3 linked regions of the Homo sapiens genome follow. The protein of the gene in region 1 purifies or fractionates together with the protein of each later gene. This does not show direct contact. Each region holds a gene or a part of one and is shown in the gene's direction. Other genes may lie near its edges.

The links.
Region 2: the proteins of SEC62 (region 1) and LPAR1 purify together in Homo sapiens (affinity purification with mass spectrometry; 3 studies listed by BioGRID and IntAct, with this or other methods). This does not show direct contact.
Region 3: the proteins of SEC62 (region 1) and SLC7A3 purify together in Homo sapiens (affinity purification with mass spectrometry; 2 studies listed by BioGRID and IntAct, with this or other methods). This does not show direct contact.

The regions. Positions count from the first base shown.
Region 1 is NC_000003.12:169,960,794-169,970,714, forward strand, and holds the start of SEC62 (translocation protein SEC62), read left to right. Parts: upstream 1-6,013; 5' UTR 6,014-6,029; coding exon 6,030-6,065; exon of another isoform or gene 6,066-7,798; intron 7,799-8,493; exon of another isoform or gene 8,494-8,590; intron 8,591-9,921. UniProt on the Homo sapiens protein: Mediates post-translational transport of precursor polypeptides across endoplasmic reticulum (ER). Proposed to act as a targeting receptor for small presecretory proteins containing short and apolar signal peptides.
Region 2 is NC_000009.12:110,964,152-110,973,847, reverse strand, and holds part of LPAR1 (lysophosphatidic acid receptor 1), read left to right. Parts: intron 1-289; 5' UTR 290-367; intron 368-1,627; 5' UTR 1,628-1,730; coding exon 1,731-1,775; intron 1,776-9,696.
Region 3 is NC_000023.11:70,923,760-70,929,473, reverse strand, and holds the end of SLC7A3 (cationic amino acid transporter 3), read left to right. Parts: intron 1-471; coding exon 472-630; intron 631-840; coding exon 841-1,018; intron 1,019-1,216; coding exon 1,217-1,329; intron 1,330-1,453; coding exon 1,454-1,676; intron 1,677-1,850; coding exon 1,851-1,990; intron 1,991-2,089; coding exon 2,090-2,192; intron 2,193-2,432; coding exon 2,433-2,599; intron 2,600-2,780; coding exon 2,781-2,947; intron 2,948-3,295; coding exon 3,296-3,404; intron 3,405-3,530; coding exon 3,531-3,661; 3' UTR 3,662-3,895; downstream 3,896-5,714. UniProt on the Homo sapiens protein: Uniporter that mediates the uptake of cationic L-amino acids such as L-arginine, L-lysine and L-ornithine. The transport is sodium ions- and pH-independent, moderately trans-stimulated and is mediated by passive diffusion.

The DNA.
Region 1 (9,921 bases):
TGTCACATATATATGTTTAACATATAAAATGGACCCAGAGAAAGTATTATTTAGAACAAAAAACTAAACCTATCAGCTCCCAGTTTGCATAAGTCTGATCAATAGGAATACATTTCTATATTATTCCCTTCCACTTGCTGAGATGGAAGTTCCCAGGAAACTGAATTTTTTCAAGTTCCTACCTATTCATCAGTCCTCCAGAGAGAGAGATCTAGATTGGAGAATGCTTTGTTTAGCACAACATGGTAATGAATTTCTTAATTTACAAAAACATGTCCAAAGGAATCCAATAGAGAGTAAAGAGCCCAATTTGTCTACTGTATAAAGCAAGGAAAATTCTGAATTTCAGAGACAACCCTAGGGAGAAGTGACAGAGCCCAGGGGCAAAGAGAAGAGATTCAGAAGGGTGGGAAGTATTCTAGAGTGAGTGAAGAAAAGTAGGCAGGTAGTCAGGAGCAGTGGGAAAGGACATGAGGAGGGCCTACAGGGATGGCCAGGGAACTCCTAGATATCAATACCTAATACTCCTTATTTAAGTTGTGGGCTCTATGTTATGGATTAAAGCATATAAAGAGATAGGAAAGCCATTAGCATTCTAACATTGGAAGGAAGAGTGGAAGAGGAGAACCCAGCAAGAAAGATTGAGAAGAAAGGATTAGAGAGGTGGGATGAAAAGCAGAAGTCTGTGAGACATCCTGGAGGGTGGTGGGAGGCAAGTGATCCCTCAGGTTCTTGGACTTAAATACCATCTATGCACTGATAACTCTGTAGGGGAAGAAAAACATTTCCCTATCCTGTTAGGTTCTGTACCTGAGGCCTATGCATTAAACTGACAAAAGACAGATTAACAGAAGAAAAGTGTACCAATTTTATTTGATGTTAATATTTTTACCATTCATGAGGGCTTCATGGAAAAGAAGTGAAAAATCAAAGAAGTGGTTAGACTTCGGGGCTTATATGCCATCTTAACAAAGGGTGATAAATTGAAGAGAAGTAACTAGATAAAGAAAAGGGGGTTTGGGTTTATACAGGTGGTAAACTGTGAGAAGGTAAAAATATAGGGGAAACTAATGGTAGATAAGGATTATAGTAAGGTTTCTTTGTGCAGACTCATCTTGGTGCTGTCTCCACTTCTGGTGGTAAGGGTTGTTTTCCTTGTCTCGGTATGGGAGAAGAATGGGGACACCTTTGTGAGAATTTATGCTCTTTTAGGCAGATAAGGACAGAGAGCTCTTGCTGTGTCTGATTTTCTCATTTGCCTTCAGGTCAAAATTATCCTTATGCCAAAGTGGCATATTTGGGGGGGCAACATATTCTGATTCCATTCAACTCCCAAATTTATACCTCCAGCCAAGACTTCTCCCTGAAATCTGCTTCTCATATAGGTGGCTGTGCAATCCATATTTCCTCTTGGATGTCCATTAGGCTTCTTCACATTAACACACCAAAAACTAAATTTCTATATTTTCATGCCAAACTTCTTTCACTCTTATATTTCTCATTTTAGTAAGTTACAATTCCATTCTTCTGGTTGGTCAAACCAAAAATCTTGAAGTTATCCTTGATTCCTCTCTTTCCCTCATATTCAGAATCTCATTGACTCTACCTTCAAAATATAACCAGAATCCAAGATGTCCCACTGCCTCTGTAGCAAACACCCAAGTCTAAGCCACCATCATCTCTCACCTGTTTGCTGCAATAACCTATGTCCCCACTTCTATCCCTGTATCTCCTCTCACAGTCTATTCACAACACAGCAATCACGGTCCTTTCTAAACAGAAGCCATTTTATGTCATTCTTCTAACCCTAATCCATCGTGGCACACCCTCTGAAGCCCTCATTTTACTCAGAGTGAAAGCCAAAGTCATTAAATGGCCTACACAATCTAGCCCCATTTCCCTCTGATCTTATCACCTACTCCTCTTCCTCTATTGAATCTGCTTTAGCCACTGACCTCCATACTATTACTCAAACACACCTGCACTCTCCCACCTCTGAACTTTTGTAAATGCTGTTCACTCTACCTTAAGTATGGTTTCCTAGGACACCCACTGGCCTTGCTCCTTCTTCTTCTTCATGCCGTTTTTGGTCAAAGTGGATCTCCTCAAAGAGGACTGCCCTGACCATTTAAGTTCCAATTACATCCTCCTTCCCACTGCAAGCAGTCCCTTTACCCTGCTTTGTTTCTATTGTAAGGCTTTTAACATACAGTGGGCCCTCCCTATCCAAGGGTCCACATCTGCTGATTCAACCAATTGAAAATACTTGGGAAAGAAAATTAACAGAAAATAACAATACCACAATAAAAATAATACAAATTTTAAAGTTACATAGTATAAAAACTATTTACATAGCATTTACATTGTACTAGGTACTATAAGTAATCTAGAGATGATATAAAGTATATGGGAGAATGTGCATAGGTTATATGCAAATACTGTATCACTTTTTATGAGGAACTTAAGCATCTGCAGATTTAAGCATCTAAAATCTAGAACTAATCCTGATTTACTCACTGTCATTCACTGTTACAGATTTTTGACAGGGGTCCTGCAATTAATCCCCAGCCAATACTGATGGACGACTGTACCATATAATTTGCCTTCTTGTGTTTTACAGTCTGTTCTCTTCTTCCCAAAATATAAGCTCCACAAGAGCAGGATGTTTGCCTCTTGAACACTAGTATATCCTCAGTGTCTAGAACAAGGACTGGCACATAATAAGCCCTCAATAAACATTTGTTTAATGAATGAATAAATATAACTCATTTCCTCAAAAATCTCCAGTAAAGTCTCTTGTAACTAATAGTTTTGCTTTGGCAAAAGAAAGAACAGGGGCCAGGTGCAGTGGCTCATGCCTGTAGTCACAGCACTTTGAGAAGCTAAGGCAGGCAGACTGCTTGAGCCCAGGAGTTAGAAACCAGCCTGGGCAACATGGAGAAACCTGTCTTTACAAAAAATTAAAAAATTTAGTTGGGTGTGGTGGCACGACCTGTGGTCCCAGCTATTCAGGAGGCTGAGGTGGGAGAATCCCTTGAGCCCAGGAGGCGGAGGTTGCAGTGAGCCGAGATCGCACCACTGCACTCCTACCTAGGCGACAGAGCAAGACCCTGTCTTCAACAACAACAACAATAACAAAAAATACTCCTCGTTTGGGAGAGAAATAACTGTCAAATAATAAGAGTAAAATTGGAAATTCAAAAGTAAGTTGGAACTAGAAGTGGCTAGGGGAAACTCCTTACTGCCACCATCAATAATATAGATGGTGTGCTGGGAAAAGGATTTGAGCTATTTTTATATAAATATTTTTATATAAATATTAAATGGAAAGGAGACCCAGAAATTTGACCCATAAATCTGAGGTTATATGTGTGAACATTAGCCATCATTCATGCTGCTACACACAACAGGGAGTCATGGAAGGAAGAAGGTCTGGAGTGTAAAGAGCATAGAAGTGAGGAGAACAATTAAAAGGCCATTGCAATACTAGTTCACGTAGGTGATGATAAGGACTTGAACAAGGCAATGGTAATGGGAATGATAAGGGAGGGAAGAATTCCAAATATCTCAGCTGTAGAATCAACAGGATTGGTGACTGACTGGCAGAAAGGCATGGTTGGGATGCATCCAAGGTTTCTAGCATGAGTAATTGAGTGAACAACGATGTAGTTATTAGATTTTTACAGTAAAAGGGGCAGGTTTTGCTGGGGAAATGGTGATTTTTAGTTGGACATCCAGTGGAAACATCCAGAAGAAATCTGGAATTAAACATGAATGCAGTATTTTGGAATTAATCTGTAAACAGAATGCACAAATAGAAGAGACAAGAGGAAGGTGAACATATAAAAACGGTGGCCAGGAACATGTGAGAATTGGGTAAAAGGAGAGAAGTCAACGAGAAATCAGAAAGAAGTTGATATACATGCCAAAGAAGGAAAAGAAGTCAAGAAGAACAGTCAATATTGTCAAATACTGAGTAAGATGCCAGCTGAGAGAAGGTATTGGGTTTGACAAAATAATTGTTACTGGATGGTGGAGGTAGAAACCAAATTGTTGTAATCTAAGGAGTGAATGACAGAACAAGAGGACACTAAATTAAAGCTCTGCTGATGAAGAAAATAGTAAGGCAGTAACTTGAGGATGAGTCATTGTCTATAAAGGATTTTTATTCCCCACCATAGTCCTAACCTAACATTTGACATCTATCTAGTAGGCACTCAATACCTACTGAATGCAATAATATTTTCATTTATAGACCAGGTCTCCTATAAAATAGTCCAGTGTTTATGTCCACATAAAACAGCACAAAACAGATTCATCATTCTGGGTGGGTAGAGGGATTGAAGGAAATAAAGACATTTCATATTCTATATTATGTTTTGGGTTAATTGGCAAGAATAATTACTTCTTTCTCACCCCATCCCTGACTATACACACACCCAAATTATAGATTATAGAGGAGAAAGGAATTAAATGACTCCTGAGACCAGAACTGCATAGTCCAAAAAAAAAAAAAAAATTCAGCAATCTTACTTTATTAAAAAATTAGGCATCAAGATGCTGCAATTTGCCTTACTTACATATTTAATTGCTCTTAGGTTAGATATATAATATGGGAAACCTGGAAAAAAATTTTAATGGTATAATAAACGCTTACAACCTAACATTAAGTGAAAAAAGCAGCTGCCTTATTGCATATGATCTCAATTTGGGAAACAGGAAAAAATATAAATACAAACACACATGCACACACACACACAAAGTCAGAATACTATAAGAAAATAAACTGAACGGTCACAGTGGCTCACGCCTGTAGTTCCAGTTACTCAGGAGACAGAGACAGGTGGATCGTTTTGAGCCCAGGAGTTCAAGACCCGCCCGGGCAACATAAGGAAACTCCATCTCCACACAAAAAAAGTAAAAATTAGCCAGGTGTGGTGGCTCATGCCTGTAGTTCCAGCTACTCAGGAGGCTGAGGAGGGAGATCAGTTGAGACGAGGAGTTCGGTGATGCAGTGAGCCGAGACTGCGCCACTGCACTCCAGCTTGGGCAATATAGAGCGAAACTCAGCATCAAAAAAAAAAGAACATCTTTCTATTCTGAATTTTCCCAATTTTCTACAATTAAAAACGCTTTAAAGATCTCTATAAAGTCAGTCAAGGGAATTTCTATCTAAGCACTTACCAGCAATTTGAGCTCCTTCTCTTTTGGTCTAGGTGGCTCTAAAATAACAATAAAGGCTACAGTGATTGAAATTCACCAGACTTGAAATAGACTGCAGCCTTCTTCCTTCCCACCTTCTTAGAATCTTTGTCCTATTCATCTTCCTTACGCTTCCCCGGGTTCTCTTACTTCTGGATTCTAACAGTGAGTTGTGAGAAGCAACGCGGAAAACGGAATGGAGACTCCAGCTTGTTTTAAACGAGCTGTATTACCCCGCACAGTGCAGGAGAAAAGATAATTGGCTCAGGTCTCGGCTCTGCCATCTACCACCTGTGGAGCCTTAGATAAGTCAGTTCTTATCTCTGTCACTCAACGGTCTCGGTCTTGTCATCTTTTACATGGAATGTCATGAAATATACAGTACATTGCAGGAACTGCCTCAGGTAAAGACTTCTAGGGTTCAGTAGGTCTCAGTCGATCCCTCTGAGAAAGGCCGCACCCTAAATGCACAGACTCTGACTCTAAGGGGATGGGGTCGGGGAATCTGCATTTTAGTAGCTTCTCAGGTGATTCAGATGCTCAGTCAGGATTGAGAAACCAGGACTCTTCCCAGCCCTCCTGTTCTCTGATCCACTTCTCTGCTTCCTCCACGTCCTAACGATTCTCCAGTTCCCGCACAGCAGGAGCGGAGGGAAGAGGGGAGAGAAGGCACCGCTAAGGACCGCTGGCCCCGCCAGGCGGCCGACCTCCCCATTCCAGGGGCGCCAGCCGGCGGATTACATAACGGGCCTCGGGGCGCGTTCTCGCGAGGTTTCCACCGCCCCCTCCTCGCTCCACGTCAGAGGGAACCGGGCGGAGCGGCCAACATGGCGGAACGCAGGAGACACAAGAAGCGGATCCAGGTAGCAAAGCCGAGCTCTGGGCAGGGGGCTTCGGCGCGCTGGATAGTGGAAGGGGCGGGGAAAGCCCCCTAAAAGGGCGAGCGAAAGCAAGGGCGAGGTGGGGTGGGGTGGGGTGGGGTTCCGCCGCGAGGCAGCTGGCTGCAGGCTGCGCGTTGTGAGGGGCCTGAGGGGGGGCGGTGTTGGCGACGGCGGAGACAGAGACGGAGGTGGTGGTGGAGCAGCAGGGGAAGGAAGGAGGCGCCGCGCTCAGAATCCGGCTGCGGAGGCGCGGCTGTGGGCCTGGAGTTCCTGTGGTCGCGCTGTCCCGGGCCTGAGCTGGAAGGTCAGCCTCCCCTGGGGCGCAGACGCTGACCCTTCCCGGGGCTCCTCCCCTCCCTTCACCCCATCCTCTGGCCTTAGCTGGCCTGAAATTAAGGCCACGGTAATAGGGGTAGCAGGAGGCGGCGGACTGACCTAAAGCAGCTGGTTCTTTGTGCGCATAGACCGTAAGGGGGAATGATCTGGACTTGGTCAGCTGCCTCGGGGCCTAGGCAGGGATCTGCTCATCCAGATGTTCAGTTGCGTTGCCCTTCTTTCCCTTCAATATTATTAACTTAATAGTCCACTTGAAGCTTGCCGGCTTTTTTCCGGGCGACGTGGTGTAAACAACCACAACCTCGTTGGTGCTGCAACGAGCTGGTGGAGCCCAGAAACCTTTCACATGCCAGTGTGTCATCCTCGTAGTAACGTACATAACATCTCCCCCTAATTCCACATGCGTGTCATTTGTGCATTTCTTCCTTGCGATTTTCCCTGGTTCTTGTTCTTTGCCAAGAGGATTAATTATGTAGAACATCTTGGACTCAGGATATTTATTAGTCGTCTCATCAGCTGATGTGCTGAGAAACCTTCATAAGCCCTCAAATTGATCACATGTAGTAAATTGTTACTATAATCATAAATTGTTACATTCATCATTGCCTTTCTGTTCCTTACTATTTCATTGCTTAGAATGATTTTTTCTTTCTTCCATTTTATCCCTTCTTTTTTTTTTTAAGTTTATCGATTTATTGGCGTACAATACAGATGTTTTGAGCTATGCAAGTTAAAATTCTTCTGTAAACTTTTTAAGTGCTGTGAAAAAGACACACATGATCAGTAAATTTGGAATTTTGGAATTTGGCAGAAATAAAGTAGTTCCGAACAGGGTGCAGAAGGGAATTAGAAAGAGGCAGATTTCGAGTTCAGACAGATAAGACTAGGTCTTAAGATCAGTAGAAGTTTCTAATTATACTGTTCTTAATCTTTCAAGAGTTAGTGTTATTCCTCTGACGTGGGTATACAGTATTTTATTAGATTGTATATTGAAATTGTCTGTCAGATTTGTACTTACAGAACTCCTTAGATTTACACTTGACAGTACAATTTTATGCCCTTCAATACACATTGTTTTACAATTCCAGTTGCTCTTTAATATTGTTGTAAGGGCTATATAATTCACCTTTTGAATAGCTGCTCTTATTTAGTTGTGATCTTATATTAAACAGAGGCTGTGGAGTAATGTGACAGTGGCAGAGAGCTAAAACTTGAGCCAAACTGCCTGTTTGTACCCCACCTCCACCAATTATTGGCTGAGTAACTTTGAGCAAGTTAATTTTTACCTCCCTGTCTGCATCGGTAAGAAAACATATTTACCTCAAAAAAAAAAAAAGCAAGAAAAAAGAAAAACTTTAAGATTGCTGTGAAAATAATAGGTGAGTCAACTTATTTATTAAAAGTTATTAAAAGTGTTTGGCACGCAGCCCCTCCCTTCTATTCTACTCCTTACCCAGGATGAAGGATTTAGATTGGATTGTTATTTTATTTTTTGTTAACTACTCTTTGATATGCTGAAGAAAGATTAACAACCCTCTATTCAGTAAACTATTAGGTTGGGAGTTATGTAGAGTATAGCTGTTTACTTTCTATTATTTGAGGATTGATTATTAAAATCTACTGGGCATACTGCAAAATTAAGTGACATTTATTTTTCTGTCCTTGAAATTTTCTACATGGCTGTATAAAATGTTTGTGAGAGATCTTAGAGTACTACTTTCATGCAGCCTAACACACTTATGAAAATATACTAGCCTAGAAAGTACCTCAGTTTTATCATTCCAGATAATCAGAAACTATAATACATCACTTGTGATAAAAAGATCAAATGTAATGAAAAGTTCAGAGTTTAACTTACAAAAAAGATCCTGTTGTAGAATTTTTAGGCAAAAGGTCTGTAATACCAACTGAGTTTCTGTCATTTGTTGCTTGATGTTTTATGTTTAGAAAGATGGTTAATAGATTCAGTGATCTTTAATTATACTTTGCACATTGGGGAGAAATGTTTGATACAAACAAATAAGTTCAGGGTTAAAAAAAAAAGTAGCTAATTTGCTTTTTCTTTGTAATTCAGTATAATTTCAGATTCTCGTGTCCCATCGAAGTTTCTAGCAAGAGGACTGTTGTCACATTTCCTTCTTGGACTCATTACTGGTCACTGAAAACCAGAAGTGAGCTACATGTACTCATACAGTAACTACATATAGATTAACAATGTGCTGCTGCATAGTAGAAGTTGATTTACAATCCTGGTATCAAGAAATTTTAGAGTTTAAAAGGATCTAGTAGGGTTTGTTTGGAAGCCTTTTTCATAAATTCAGTCTTAACATGAAAGCAGAGTGGTGATCCTACAGCTGACTGATCTCACCCAACACCCTCGTTTTTCAGATAAACTGAGGTCCAGTGAGGTTTTGTGACTTAATCCAGGATCGTCAATCAAGATAGTAAAACCAGATTTAGACCAGGTCTTCTGATTCCCAACTGAATACTCTTTCTGTCTCACAATAGATAAAAAATAAGTTGCTTTGAAATACTTTAATCCTGACTTCTTTATTATTGAATTATGCAACGTAAAGACTTAACATGACTTGTCCTTGCTAAAGAGAATCATCCCATTCAGTATTCTGCTTAATGTCCAGTTGAGTTTTGAGACATTTAAATGGCTAATTCTTAGAACTTTTATAACCCTCCATTAGTTATTTTTGTTGCACCCATCTGTCTTCCTGGCAAGCAATAAAACCTTGACATATCATGGGCTTATGTGCTTAATTTCAGGACAGGGAAGAAAAGAGAAAATTTGGGACTATATAGCCAGACTATACAGGTCTAATTTCTGACTCTGAATATTCTGAAGAGAAAGAACTCAGGAAGCCAGTCCTAAATCAGAAAACTACCCCTCAAAGGCTTAATGGAGGGTTTTGCAGTTTAGCAAACCCATTGCTAAGGAAAGAATACAATAGAAGGGAGTTGGAGCTATTACAGAAGGGCACTGCTGTTGTCTAGATACTCTTGTATAGTGTTATTTGTGTAGCACATATTGTTACTAATGATTAAGGTCCCCTCCAGCTTTCAGATCTTATTGTTAAACTACTATTTGCATTTTTCACAAATATTTTATACTGCTTGAACCAAGCCTTTTTCTTTTTTGCTCAGTTCATGGTTGACAGATCAACTAAGCTAATTTTTATTGGATGTAGTAATTTTTAAAAGTTCCTCTGTATCACAAATTCTGTAAGATTGGTGCCTGTGACATACTTACTCTTGATTTTTTTCTCAAAAAGGTTAAATATTGGCTAAAATAACTTAGAAATGTCAAACTCTATCTTATTATAGTATTTGAGTGTCGGTGTATTCTAAAGTAAAAAACAGTATTTATTAAAGAATTTTATAAGAGTATTCTAACCAAACTTCCAATTTAAATAATTTTGTATTTTAAGTTACAGCACCCAGTGTATTGGTGTTGGGTGCAAAGAAAGGAAAGGCAGTCCAGCCTAAATTTATT
Region 2 (9,696 bases), on another chromosome or scaffold:
TATGAACATCACCAGAAAATGAAAATGTTTCTTAAAAATAAACGAATTTTTAAAAATTATTTTCTTAAAATGAAAAATTTTTTTCTTCTGGACTAAATTGCAATGTGGAAAGAGTCACATCAGCCTTTGGACAGAACTAGGGCTGTGATTTACTACAGGGAAGTTAGCATCTTTCTGAGTTTTCTTAATGAACACGTGAATAAGAGATTTGGTTATACTTTGTGCTTATTTAGCATCCTCTCTTTGAGGATGTCAAAAGGATTTTAGAAATGTTCTCTTTCTCACACAGGTGGACGTCTGATTTATGAAGCTCCCCATCCACCTATCTGAGTACCTGACTTCTCAGGACTGACACCTACAGCATCAGGTATCTTGCCTTTCTTTAGTCTTAAAAGCGGTAACTAAGTTCCTTGAGGAGATATAGGCAGGGAACACATTAACTTCGTTACGTTTCATATAGGCCTGGGAACCGGAGTTGCTGCTGTAGTCCTGGTTCTACCATTAAATGTGTGACTCTAGTCCCTTTTCTTCTCTAAGCCTCAATTTTTTCTTCTGCAAATAGGTGGGGTTGGACGGGGTGCTATCTAATCACTTGACGGTATTATGGTAGTCTACTTTTATCCGAAGCTTCACTTTCCACAGTTTCAGTTACCTGCAGTCAAACTTGGTCCAAAAATATTAAATGAAAAATTTCAGAAACAAACAATTCACAAGTTGTAAATTGCACACCGTTCTGAATAGTGTGGGTGAAATCTCATACTGTCCATGTGATTTGTCCCTTTGTCCTGCGATTCCACACTGTGTGTGCTACCTGTACATTAGTCACTCAGTAGCTGTCTCTGTTATATACAGGGTTGGGTACTATTCACAGTTTCTTTTTCTTTTTCTTTTTCTTTTTTTTGAGAAGGAGTCTCTCTGTGTCGCCCAGGCTGGAGTGCAGTGGTGCCATCTTGGATCACTGCAACCTCTACCTCCCAGGTTCAAACAATTCTCCTGCCTCAGCCTCCTGAGTAGCTAGGATTACAGGCATGTTCTACCACGCCTGGCTAATTTTTGTATTTTTAGTAGAGATGGGGTTTTGCCATGTTGGCCAGGCTGGTCTCAAACTCCTGACCTCAGGTAATCCTTCCCCCTCGGCTTCCCAAAGAGCTGAGATTATAGGCGTGAGCCACTGCACCTGACCCACTATCCAGTTTCAAGTATCCACTGGGGGGCTTAGAATCCACTCCTCAGATAAGTGGGGGTGGTTACTGCATTCTCTTTGCCCTCTATGTAAGCCGTCAGCTCTCCACTGTGGATTATTCAATTCCTTTATTATTTAATGGCAGGATGGCTTTTCCCCCGACTCACCCTCCTCAGCTCTGCAACTTGAAACTGTCTTCCCAAAACATCTAGCTGGGATGTTGGATTCAAACCTATGAAAATTCCTCAACTTAAGAGTATTTGGACAGATAGCACAGAAGTCGTGGCTTTTAGACCTTAGCTTTTCCCTACCGGCTTTCTGTTTGCATTAAGCTAGTATTTGACACTTGATGTCTAGGGATTCTTACCTCCTTTGGCCAATGGTACTTCACACCCATATGCTAGTCCTTTTATGCTAAATGTGGGTTTTCCTGTTGTTTTCCAGGTACACAGCTTCTCCTAGCATGACTTCGATCTGATCAGCAAACAAGAAAATTTGTCTCCCGTAGTTCTGGGGCGTGTTCACCACCTACAACCACAGAGCTGTCATGGCTGCCATCTCTACTTCCATCCCTGTAATTTCACAGCCCCAGGTAAGGGCTTCAAACTAGCAGAGGTCTGAGGTAATCGTAAGTTTGTCAAATATTTAAACTGGGTTTCAGGAAGTGTATTTGACTCTAGGGATCATGTATATCTCTCTCGCTATCATTTGGTGTGTATTCGAATAATGGTGCTTTTGTGAGTGAGGTGCCATTTCGTTCAGGAAGCAGCTGGAACAATGAACAAGTGATTTTAGTGAACTGGCCTCTGTTCATAGGAGGCCTTGGTTTTCAGTGCTTAGGATGTCTGACATTATAGGCATCAAACTCTAAATCAAAGTAAGTCAGTAGTAAACCCTGCTGCTTTTCCTCTCTTGGCTTTTTTGTGGGCCGGGGGGTGGGGTGGGGTTTAATGAAATATATCAGAATGGATCTAATTTTATAACAAGTTTTCTGAGGGCTGTCTTGTTGTCCTCCTCCTATACTTACTCTTTTGCCTTGATCTGTTCTAGGAACTTTGAAACAAAATGCAATTCCAGAAACTTCTGAGCAGCAATCGTATGAGTTATTTTTTTCTGTCCAGTGAAGAGCAGTAATACGGCAGGGACATGGTCTTTGTTCAGATGATTTTACAGCCTGATTTAATCAGGCATTGGCTGGACTCTTTCAGATTCACCAGGCAGCAGGGTACAATGTGGAAACAGACTTTGGAGTCATAAGGCCACAGTTCACATCCCTGCTCCTCTGATTGCAGGATAAAGAGCCCTAGTCATGCTAGCTTCTCTCAGCTTCAGTTTCCTCTCATGTAATCATTCCTCACATGATGGTTATATGGATAAAATGATGGTTCATATACATGAGGCATACAGAGGTGCTCAGCAAGTGTAGTTTCCCATTTACTCTTCATTTATCTTCTTTCTATAGTGTGACCTCCTTTCTTATTTGTGACAATCATTTTTTGGCCAACTTTATTTTTATTTATTTATTTTTTTGAGAGAGAGCCTTGCTCTGTTGCCCAGGCTGGAGTGTAGTGGCATGATCTTGGTTCACTGCAATCTCCACCTCCTGGGTTCAAGCGATTCTCCTGTCTCAGCTTCCTGAGTAGCTGAGATTACAGGCGCCCGCCACCACGCCCAGCTAATTTTTGTATTTTAGTAGAGATGGGGTTTCACCATGTTGGTCAGGCTGGTCTTGAACTCTTGACCTCAAATGATCCACCTGCCTTGGCCTCCCAAAGTGCTGGGATTACAAGCCTGAGCCACTGTGCCCGGCCTCGGGCAACTTTGAAGAAAAAAGCATACTTTCAAGAAAGAGCCATACTGATTGAAATTTGAACTTGATACAGAACGTTGTTCCACACTGTTTTTTTCAGTATGATTTTGCAGGCTATTCAATTTTGTATGTATTTTAAGTAGGGGTTTGTGTGTTTGTGAGAGAAGGAGAGAAGGAGGAGAGGGAAAAAGGAGAACAAGGGGCATTTTTCCCTCATATAGTATAGTGTTTTCTCCTCAACACCATTTGGGATGTCATCATTGTTATCAACCTTGGGATTTTATCATATGAATAAAGCCCTTTATTCATATCATATGAATAAAGAATAAAGTACTAAGGCCTTTAGTATTATTTTCCAGAATGTTTAGTGTTACCATCGTCATACGCATTCCTCTTTCTGGTAAGTGGACCATTGTCCTTTCAACACTTCATTTACTTTGGGTGTTTGGTTTCCCTTATCTTCAATAGACTTTTTTGGTGTCTGAGAGACTTGGAGAATGGGCAAAGAGATTTAGTGCCTGTTACCTGAGGTCACCATTTCAAAGTCCACTGCAGCTGTTCCCATGTAATGACTCTTCTTAGTCCTTTCGTGAAGTGAGTTAGGCTAGTGCGGGTTTTCTAGACAGGGCATTTCCACATCCCGGTTTGCTGCTGTCATCTTTCAGCATTTCCAACAGCATCTTCTTATCTATATATCTTCTCTGTTACACAAGCTCCTATCAGCTGGTGAGGAATAGAAATACCTCTAAATGACTCATTTAATTAAAATGTTTAACACTGCCCAAAGGAGAAAGAGGTTCTATTTCATACAATCACTGGGGGAAATGTGTACTCTCGTAAATTCTCTGTGGGAAAGTAAATTGGTACAGTCACTCTGGAGGGTAATTCAACAGTATCTATTAAAATTATACACTTCTGCACATGCCCTGCTCCTGTCTTGGAATCTACATTAGAAAACCACTCACACATGAGCCCAAGGAGTGTATAAGGAATGTATAAAGATATTCATTGAAGCATTGGTTGCAAACCAAGAAGTACAAAATTTTGTGAATATCCAATAGTAGAAAGACTTAATGAATTCAGGAATGTGGACATGATTGAAATACTATTCAGTCATTTTATTTATTTCTTTTTTTTTTTTCTGAGACAGAGTCTCATTCTATTGCCCAGGCTGGAGTGTAGTGGCACGATCTTGTCTCACTGCAACCTCCACCTTCTGGGTTCCAGCAATTCTCCTGCCTCAGCCTCCCAAGTAGCTAGGATTATAGGTGTGTGCCTCCATGCCTGGTTAATTTCTGTATTTTTAGTAGAGACGGGGTTTCACCATGTTGTCCAGGCTGGTCTCAAACTCCTGACCTCAGGTGATCTGCCCATCTTGGCCTCCCAAAGTTCTGGGATTACAGCCATGAGCCACTGCGCCCGACCACTATTCAGTAGTTTTAAAATGAGGATGTCTACACAGCTATATATTACTCCAAGATATCGTATGGAGGAAAAAGAAAGCAAGACGCAAAATAGTACTTATGGGAAGATACCATTAAAATTCTAAAACAAGACTGTGTATTTTTAGGGAGAAGTATATGGTACATTAATGGAAATGGATAATGAAAGTCCTAGAACATACATTCTTAACATAGTTATATTGCCCCAAGAGGACAAAAATTGGGTTTTGGGAGATGAAAAAAATCCCTCCAGAGCTTATACCTCTATCCAACAAAATCTTATTCCTTAGTATTTAGTTTTTTCTCATTAGAAAAAATTTAAATGTAATTAATTTTTCTCCTTAAGGATCACTAATGAGAAAAAAATATGGCCAAGAAACACTGGTTTCTTGAGGGAGGCACATAGGCTCACCAGTCACCCTGCTTCAATTTACTAATTACCTGAGCCTGAGGGGAAGGTATCCACCCTCTTAGTGCCTCTATTTCCTTACCCACGGAATGAGCATAGCATTAATGAAGCCAACCTGATAGGGTTATTTTAAGGCGGAAATGAAATAATTTCTATAAAGCTCAGAATAGTGCCTGGCACATATTCTGGGCACATATTGCCCAGTGCATATTAGCAAGCATTGTTATTATTGCTCAGCAAGCCTTGTGGCAGGGCTGGGGGATACAAGAATAAATAAGAGAAATAAGTTTTGCCCTGCCAGAGTTTACAGATATAGTGGGAGATACACAGATAAAACAAAAAGTTACAACGCTTTGTCACCCATGCAGGAATGCACAAATACAGGAAGTATGGGTGCTCTGGGAGGAAAGTGGAGACCCAAGAAAAGATTTAGAGGATCAGGGAAGGCTTCTTGAAGGAAGACCACTAGGCTGAGGACAAATTAATATGAGTTATTTTGGTAAAGGAGAAGAAAAAGCATAGGTGAATGTCAAGTGTCCCAAGGTATGTGTGTGTGTGAGAGAGAGAGAGAGAGAGGGAGCAAAGCATTTAGAATTTTGTTTTGGATGGTTGCACTACAGTGGGGCATGAGATTGTAAACAGTGATGTCCCTAGAGCCACCTATACCAACTCACAGAAGCAGATTGTTAAATTTTCAGGAATTTCGCGAGCCAATTGACTTCATGCCAGCAGCTTGAAATCAGCCACATGGAATAGTTATACTGCAGAAATCGGCAAGTGCTAGAATTAGCATAAATGGGTTAGGTTATAAAGTTGGAGATTTTACAGGGTCTTTCAAACCGTATTAATGAATTTAACATTGATCTTAAAAGAAGTCTTTGTTAGCTTAATGGTCCCAGCCTTTGAAATAGACCTGGGTTCAAGTTCTGACTTTCGATAATAGTTTTATTGAGCAAGTTTATTAATTAACCTTAACCAGGGTAGTTGCATTATTCTCACCGTATTTTGGGAATAGTGGCAGCCTCTGATGGTTGGGGAACTAAGCCCACGGGGAAGGAGTCAGCTATACACTGGGACATTAGGTCATAGAGATAGATAGCTTCTTCTGGAGAGATGCAGACCATTGGGTCACTTGGTTCCCAGGATCCTTTGGCCAATGATGGGCCTCCTAATTATATGTCAATTCCTCACATGTAATTTGTACAGTGAAATTTAGTCCAAGGCTGACTTGCCCTTGCCCCGAAGCTTCTACTGATGTCTTCTCTCTTATTATCAGTTTTGCCCAAGTTCAAAGAAGGTAAAAATAATTTAGATATAGCATCTTCTTAGGCAAGCATAATAAGCAGCTCACTCAGTCACCTTAGCCTGGTATTGTCTGGCACATCAACTTGCTTTCTTTTCCAGTGAATTCAGGGACCTTGTAAAGATAAATCCACATTCAAGTGTGAAAGGCCTGAAAATCCTTTTCTAAGGCCAAAACAACAATTTTTTAGAAAAACTTTTGGTTTTGTTTGTTACTCTATTCATTGGGTAACAAAGAGCATTTTTCTAATCAAGGCTGCCTAATACTACATATAAACGAATTAATATGAACAAATAGCTTGTGATTGTTTCAAACAATAATAGGGAAGAAAGCTTGCATTGTCACGCCTGCTGGGATTGCTGTTTAGTTAGTTGAAAGATATGCCTTGTTTTTTGAAGTGGGGCAAGTTTGTATTCTCTGCTTTACCCCTGCCTTGACTCTGAGACAGATTTTTGTTTTCTCATGCTGAGAGAGCACCTAGCTCTTACAAAGCTAGGTGATGAATACTAAGACGAAACTGGACTAGCAGCAGCAAGAAGATGCCGTGTTTGTAACCGATTTATAATTCTGCTGGTCCAGACACTGAAAAAGAGTTTTCTTATCCAAAGGAAACTCCTGGGATGTATTTGCAGACAGGAACCTGTTCATCATTAGGTTGAGTTAATGTGTTCGTATCCTGTGGATATTGGGGGCATGGGGATGGGGTAGGAAACCAAACAAACTTGCAGCTCTCCAGAGCCATTTTCTGTTTCTAGCACTGTGTTAAGCATTACCCTGTGCTTGATCAGGTTACTGTGGATAGAAGTTGGATTAAAAGTTTCATTTTCATTGTTCATGAAAGAGTCAATAGTTCAGTACCAGAGTGAGCAGTTTGGCTTCTCTTAAACCTAGGATTATATTAGAGGCCAGAATAGGTATCTGAAAACCTAAAAGATATTCAGGTCTCACACCTGTGATTCCAGTAAGGCAAGAGTCTTCTTTATCAGTATTTTTCATGGTGTATCATTCTGTCTCTCATTTGTTACATGACCATTTTGTTATTTTTTAATTTTCATTTTTATATTTATTTGAATTTAAATTATTTTATTCTAAAATATTTTACTTTAAGTTCTGGGATACATGTGCAGAACATGCAGGTTTGTTACATAGGTATACATGTGCCATGGTAGTTTGCTGTACCTATCAACCCATCATCTAGGTTGGTTTTTTTTTTTTTTTTCTTGAGATGGAGTCTCACTCTGTTGCCCAGGCTGGAGTGCAATGTCGTGATCTTGGCTCGCCACAACCTCTGCCTCCTGAGTTCAAGCGATTCTCCTGCCTCAGCCTCCTGAGTAGCTGGGACTACAGGCGTGTGCCACCATGCCTGGCTAATTTTTATATTTTTAGTAGAGATGGGGTTTCACTATGTTGGCCAGGCTGGTCTTGAACTCCTGACTTAGTGATCCGCCCACCTTGGCCTGCCAAAGTGCTGAGATTACAGGTGTGAGCCAGCATGCCCGGCCCATCATCTAGGTTTTAAGCCCGCATACAATAGGTATTTGTTCTAATGCTCTCCCTCCCCTTTTCCCCCACTCCCAGACAGGCCCTGGTGTGTGATGTTCCCCTCCCTGTGTCCATGTGTTCTCATTGTTCATCTCCCACTTATGAGTGAGAATATGTGGTACTTGGTTTTCTGTTCCTGTGTTAGTTTGCTGAGAATGATGGTTTTCAGCTTCATCCATGTCTCTACAAAAGATGTGAACTTATTCTTTTTTATGGCTGCATAGTATTCCATGGTGTATATGTGCCATATCTTCTTTATCCAGTCTGTCATTGATGGGCATCTGGGTTGGTTCCAAGTCTTTGCTATTGTAAATATAGTGCTACAATAAACATGCGTGTGCATGTGTCTTCATAGTAGAAATGATTTATAATCCTTCGGGTATATACCCAGTAATGGGATTGCTGGGTCAGATGGTATTTCTGGTTCTACATCCTTGAGGAATCACCACACTGTCTTCCACAAAGGTTGAACTAGTTCACATTCCCACCAACAGTGTAAAGGTGTTCCCATTTCTCCACATCCTCTTCAGCATCTGTTGTTTCCTGACTTTTTAATAATCATCATTCTAACTGGTGTGAGATGGTATCTCATTGTGGTTTTGATTTGCATTTCTCTAATGACCAGGAATAATGAGCTTTTTTTCATATGTTTGTTGGACACATAAATGTCTTCTTTTGAGAAGTATCCGTTCATATCCTTCACCCACATTTTGATGGGGTTGTTTTTTCTCTTAAATTTGTTTAAGTTCCTTGTAGATTCTGGATATTAGACCTTTGTCAGATGGATAGATTGCAAAATTTTTCTCCCATTCTGTAGGTTGCCTGTTCACAACCATTTTGGTTTTAAGTCAAGAACATAAAGATATTTTGATCCCTCCAAGTGATTTCCTGTAGCTTTCATTGAAGATGTGAATTTGGGTAGATTTTCAATATCTTAGTTAAGAGATTGTTCCTCCAATTCTCATTCAGTGTTCTGATAAAAAGTGATTGCGGCTGGGTGCTGTGGCTCACACCTATAATCCCAGCACTTTGGGAGGTTGAGACTGGTGGATCACCTGTCAGAAGTTTGAGACCAGCCTGGCCAATATGGTGAAACCCCGTCTCTACTGAAAATACAAAAATCAGCTGGGTGTGGTGGCGTGCACCTGTAATCTCAGCTACTCAGGAGGCTGAGACAGGAGAATTGCTTGAACCCAGGAGGCAAATGTGGCAGGTTGCAGTGAGCCGAGATCGCACTACTGCACTCCAGCCTAGGTGAAACAGTGAGACTCTGTCTCAAAAAAAAAAAAAAAAAAAAAAAAAAAAGTGATTGGTGTCTGTTTGTTGTCTTTTGGAAGACACTTTTTTTTGGACATCCTTACCAATAGGTACTCTCAACAAAATATGTATTTTCAAAATCTGTGTTTTAGGTTTTATTTCTGTTATTAGAAAGTGGATTTTTTTTTTATCAAAGCAACTGAATTTCACATTAAATGGGTTTTTTTTTTGAGGCTGAAAGATTCGTCTTTTTGGATAGAACTTTGTACTATGGCAGTTTTCAGACATTCACAAAAATAAAAATAACAATCTCAATATAGCCAACACCTAGATTCAGTAATAACATTTTGACACAGTTGCTTCACTTGCTCCTTTTTTGGGGGATGAAGTATTTTAGGATCCCTAGCATTGTCATCTTTTAAAAAATCCCCTTATGTTAATATGCATATCTAAAAAATAATTTGCTTAAATAACCACACTGCCATCATCACACTTAGCAAAAGTATAAATAACTCCTTAATATCACTTGATACTCAATTCACATTCAGGTTTCTTCAGTTGCTTTTCTAAAATGTGTTCTTGTAGTTGGTGGGTTATTTATTTTTATTTTTTAAAAACATTGATTAGATCAGTTTACTCTTCTGCATAAAATGATTCAATGACTCTTAAGGTTTAAAAAGGCAATTCCACTTCCTCTCTTTATTTTCTAAGTGAGAAAACAGATTGAAATTATAACTAGAATATTTCACA
Region 3 (5,714 bases), on another chromosome or scaffold:
GTGGAGAAATTGCTCATTCTATCCATCTCCGTCCTGGTTTCCTTAATTAAGTGAATGGTTTTGGTTCTTAAAAAGTAATAATAGGCCAGGTGCAGTGGCTCACGCCTATAATCCCAACACTTTGGGAAGCCGAGGCAGACAGATCACCTGAGGTCAGGAGTTCAAGACCAGCCTGGCCAACCTGGTGAAACCCTGTCTCTACTAAAAATACAAAAGTTAGCCGCGCAGGGTGGCTTACACCTGTAGTCCCAACTACTCAGGAGGTTGAGGCAGGAGAATCTCTTGAACCTAGGAGGCAGAGGTTGCAGGGAGAGGAGATTGTGCCACTGCACTCCATCCTGGGTGACAGAGTGAGACTTGGTCTCAAAACAAAACAAAAGTAAGAATAGGTGAAAAAGGCAGGGACTTGTGTGAGCCTGGGGTCTGGGAAGAAGGGAACTTGGCCACATGTTTCTCTCTCTGCTACACCAGGTACAGCCAGTGTGGCCCGGGCCTGGAGCTCTGCTTTTGACAACCTGATTGGGAACCACATCTCTAAGACTCTGCAGGGGTCCATTGCACTGCACGTGCCCCATGTCCTTGCAGAATATCCAGATTTCTTTGCTTTGGGCCTCGTGTTGCTGCTCACTGGTGAGGCAAAGAGCAGGGTATAATGGTGGGGGTTGGGCCAGGAGGGGCTAGTCCTTGGGGCCAGGGATAAGGATGGGGGATGGGCCTGAGAAAGGCTTAAGGGAGGTGATAATGGTGGGGAAGAAGAAAAGCTGGGAAGGAACCTAGAGGCAGGGAAACAAAGCTTGGACTGAAGACTTTCTGGGAGTCCTGAATGCATTTCTCCCACAGGATTGTTGGCTCTCGGGGCTAGTGAGTCGGCCCTGGTTACCAAAGTGTTCACAGGCGTGAACCTTTTGGTTCTTGGGTTCGTCATGATCTCTGGCTTCGTTAAGGGGGACGTGCACAACTGGAAGCTCACAGAAGAGGACTACGAATTGGCCATGGCTGAACTCAATGACACCTATAGGTTAGATGGTCACTCTTAGGAGCTGCAGAGCTGGGAAAATGAAGGGGAAGAAGGGGATCTGCTGAAGGATTCTGGATGGGGATGGGAAAAAATGGGAGGCTGGGCTTTGAAGACCTAGCTAACTGGTTTGGCATTAGAGAAAAGATACAGAGTTGGCTGAACACACCCTTACCTTCTCCAACCCTTCTTCCACTCTAGCTTGGGTCCTCTGGGCTCTGGAGGATTTGTGCCTTTCGGCTTCGAGGGAATTCTCCGTGGAGCAGCGACCTGTTTCTATGCATTTGTTGGTTTCGACTGTATTGCTACCACTGGTAACACAGTCATTCCATTCTGTTTGGGGCTTGGGCACAGTGTGTGCCCAGGCTGTATGCAGACTGGGGGTGGTAGAGGAGTGGGCCTGCTTCCCTAATTTAGAACCTTACGCCCTTCCTTCAGGAGAAGAAGCCCAGAATCCCCAGCGTTCCATCCCGATGGGCATTGTGATCTCACTGTCTGTCTGCTTTTTGGCGTATTTTGCTGTCTCTTCTGCACTCACCCTGATGATGCCTTACTACCAGCTTCAGCCTGAGAGCCCTTTGCCTGAGGCATTTCTCTACATTGGATGGGCTCCTGCCCGCTATGTTGTGGCTGTTGGCTCCCTCTGTGCTCTTTCTACCAGGTCAGTATCAAATGTTTGTTTTCTTCTGCTGTCAGAGTCTCAGGTTATAGCATTCAGTACCAGAGAATACCCCTTAAAAGGGCTGTGAGGGGAAAGTGGAGACTCTTTAAACATACAGTCTTGGGAAGAGAGATCCCAGTCAACTCATGCCACCCTGGGCATTCTCCTCTCCAGCCTCCTGGGCTCCATGTTCCCCATGCCTCGGGTGATCTACGCGATGGCAGAGGATGGCCTCCTGTTCCGTGTACTTGCTCGGATCCACACCGGCACACGCACCCCAATCATAGCCACCGTGGTCTCTGGCATTATTGCAGGTAACAGACCCTCTTTCCCCTTCCCTTAGTTGTTTCGCCAACTTCTTTAACTTTGCCACTCCCTTCTCTCATTTCTTGTTTCCTGCCTATTAATTTTAGCATTCATGGCATTCCTCTTCAAACTCACTGATCTTGTGGACCTCATGTCAATTGGGACCCTGCTTGCTTACTCCCTGGTGTCGATTTGTGTTCTCATCCTCAGGTGAGACTCTTCCTCTGCATACTGTGATTTGGATTTTTATTCTTGGATGAGGAATGATGGAGATCTGCTCCTCTTTCCTCCTTCGCCTTCATTATTCCAACTTTCTTTGAGGAATCTGGGTATCTCACCCTGCCAAAAAGAACTTCCCTTAATGGTGATGAGGAAGGTTAAGCTGCCTGGGAGAAGATGATAAAGTGAGTAAAGGTTGTTCTTAATACTGCCATCTTACTTTTGCCTCAGGTATCAACCTGATCAGGAGACAAAGACTGGGGAAGAAGTGGAGTTGCAGGAGGAGGCAATAACTACTGAATCAGAGAAGTTGACCCTATGGGGACTATTTTTCCCACTCAACTCCATCCCCACTCCACTCTCTGGCCAAATTGTCTATGTTTGTTCCTCATTGCTTGGTGAGCAGTGGAATTTTTCTGGGGTGGCTCTGAGATCAGCGTGATTGGGTCGAAGTGTGTGGCATTTGGTGGCTGAGGAAGAACTAGAGAGAGAGCGACTCTCCTTGGAACAGGGTTTCTAATGTCTTAGCATGTTGGTCTTAAGAGTTGGTTTTGATGTCTCTCAACTTGACCTTTGAAGCTGTCCTGCTGACTGCTCTTTGCCTGGTGCTGGCCCAGTGGTCAGTTCCATTGCTTTCTGGAGACCTGCTGTGGACTGCAGTGGTTGTGCTGCTCCTGCTGCTCATTATTGGGATCATTGTGGTCATCTGGAGACAGCCACAGAGTTCCACTCCCCTTCACTTTAAGGTAAATGAACTCTGTCTTTTTTCCTTGCCAGCCCATCTTGGGAGAATAGGCTCCAGATATCTTGAGGTCTAATAAAGTTCATAGATATTCTTTAATTGAACATGAAAGGGAAGATATAGGAGGTACCTAGGCCAAAGACTTCTTCTCTGACCCTCTTTAGTTCCTTTCCAGTTCCATTTACCCAAACTGCATATTCTTGGAGTCTCATGAGGTATGCTAAATGAGCAGCTACTGAAATGCAGAGGACAAGTAAGAGTTGGACTCACCCTTTTCTGGCCTGCATAGGATAGGGATCTCTTTCTAGGTCAACCTGTGGTATGTACAAAGAAGATTTTACTTTGTTTTCAGGTGCCTGCTTTGCCTCTCCTCCCACTAATGAGCATCTTTGTGAATATTTACCTTATGATGCAGATGACAGCTGGTACCTGGGCCCGATTTGGGGTCTGGATGCTGATTGGTAGGTATCCACTTGGGAAGAGTAGGCTTCTTTGGTGTCCTAGCCCAGCTCCTTTCCCTCTTGGTCTCAAGTAGGAAACCTATGAAGCCTTTACACCCCCACCTCACAGCTACCTTTCCCCACTAGGCTTTGCTATCTACTTCGGCTATGGGATCCAGCACAGCCTGGAAGAGATTAAGAGTAACCAACCCTCACGCAAGTCTAGAGCCAAAACTGTAGACCTTGATCCCGGCACTCTCTATGTCCACTCAGTTTGACATCGTCACACCTAAATGCTGTCTGGTCCCCTGCACAATAATGGAGAGTACTCCTGACCCCAGTGACAGCTAGCCCTCCCCTGTGATGGTGGTGGTGGATACTAATACAGTTCTGTACGATGTGAAGGATGTGTCTTTGCTATTTCTTGTCTATTTTAACCCGTCTGCTTCTAAATGATGTCTAGCTGCTTACCAACTTTAAAAAATGATATTAAAAGAAAGTAGAAAAATAAACTGTGTCCTGTTTTTTGCTTGCTAAAGATGTAGAGCCTGACTTTTAAGAGTGAAGAGCCTCAGAGAAGTGTCCTTTGTGTTTTCTTCAGTTACCACAAAAGCATCTGCTGTGCCTGTGGGTGCTTCTTGTTGAATCAGGGTTTGAGGAGGGTGGTGTAAGTAGGTAGCCATCCAGTCCAGTCACACTTAAAGGAATGGTCTTGAGATATGTTTTCCCCTCATTACACTTAAGGTTAGGTTCTGGATAAGTAGACAGCAACACTTGTCTCTGGGATTTGGGGTGGACTCTGATAGCAACACTGACATTGGTTAGGGCCTACACTGAAACTATTGGCTTCTGTTCCACCTCTTCTAGTTGGACCAGTCCCACACTCCTGTAACTGCCTGAGCATCAGAAATTTTGGCTGCGGTGTTTGGCACTGCTGGGAGGAGGGGTGGATAGTCAGGGGGTTTGGTAAGGGACCACATATATTAATATATGGATACTGTTTGCTGCAGAAGTAGTAGGAAAATAGAGGTCAGAGCTCTGCTCAGAACGAGAACTATTCATTCATCCATTTATTCAACAAACATAGGTGAAGCTCCTATAAAACGTTAGGTCCTGTGGTGGGTGCTGGGGATACAAATGTGAATAAAACATAATCCCCACCCTTAAGGAACTCACAATCTTGTGGAGGAGACAAGCAGGTAAATATGACTACAAAACAGTGTGATTTGTACCAGGGCAGTGCAGAGTGCTGTGGAAGCACAAAGAAGGACATGCTTGAACTGAGTCTGCAGTAGATGCTTAAGAAGTGGACTGAGGGAAGGGCTTGGCTGTCAGTGTACAGTGTGCAAGAAACCACGGAAGTATGAAAAAACATTCAAATTGTGTTTGGGGTGTGGCATACAGTTTAATGTAGCTGGAGGGTAGCACATATGCAGCTGTGGTAAAAGATAAAAGGCTGTATACATGGCCTTGTATACTAAGGAATTTAGATGTTATAAGTGTGTGTGCAGAGAAAAAGAAGTGGGAAGGCCAGGTGCGGTGGCTCACGCCTGTAATCCCAACACTGGGAGGCTGAGGTGGCCGGATCGCTTGAGCTCAGGAGTTGCAGGCCAACCTGGGCAATATAGTGAGACCCTGTTTCTACAAAAAAATAGAAAAAATTAGCTGGACGTGGTGGTGCACATCTATAGTCCCAGCTACTCAGGAGGCTGAGGTGGAAGGGATCCCTTGAGCCTGGGAAGTTGAGTCTGTAGTGAGCTGTGATAGTGCCACTGTACTTCTGCCTGGGTGACAGAGTGAGACTCTGTTTCAAAAAAGAAAAAAAAAAAGGTGGGGAGTCACTGGACAACTCTAAGCAGGGGGATGGTTGGATTTGTGAGTGTGAGTCTGGCAGCAGCAAGGAAGATGGCTTGGAAGTGAGTGGGACAAGCTAGAGCAGGAAGATAATAGCTACCATTTATTGAGCATTTATTATATTCCATTACTCTGCATACAATCTCATTAAGTCTTTTCAATAACCCTGTGAAATAGATGTTAAGATAGTTATTTTTTGCAGATGAAGAAACAGGCTTTAGGTGAGAAATACGCTTTAGGTCACATAATGTAGAAAGGTCAGAGCCAGGAAAGAAGCCCAGTTTTGTTTGACTCTGCAGCTTATACTCTAACCACTATGCAACATTGCTAGTAGTAACTGACTGCAGTCATTTGGGCAAAATATTTCAGAATTTTGATCAGTTGAATGCAGGGGGTAAAAAAGAAGTGAGTGACATCCAGGTAAAGTTTCTAGGTGAATGATCAAACCATTAACTAATATAAGGGAGCATAAGAGGA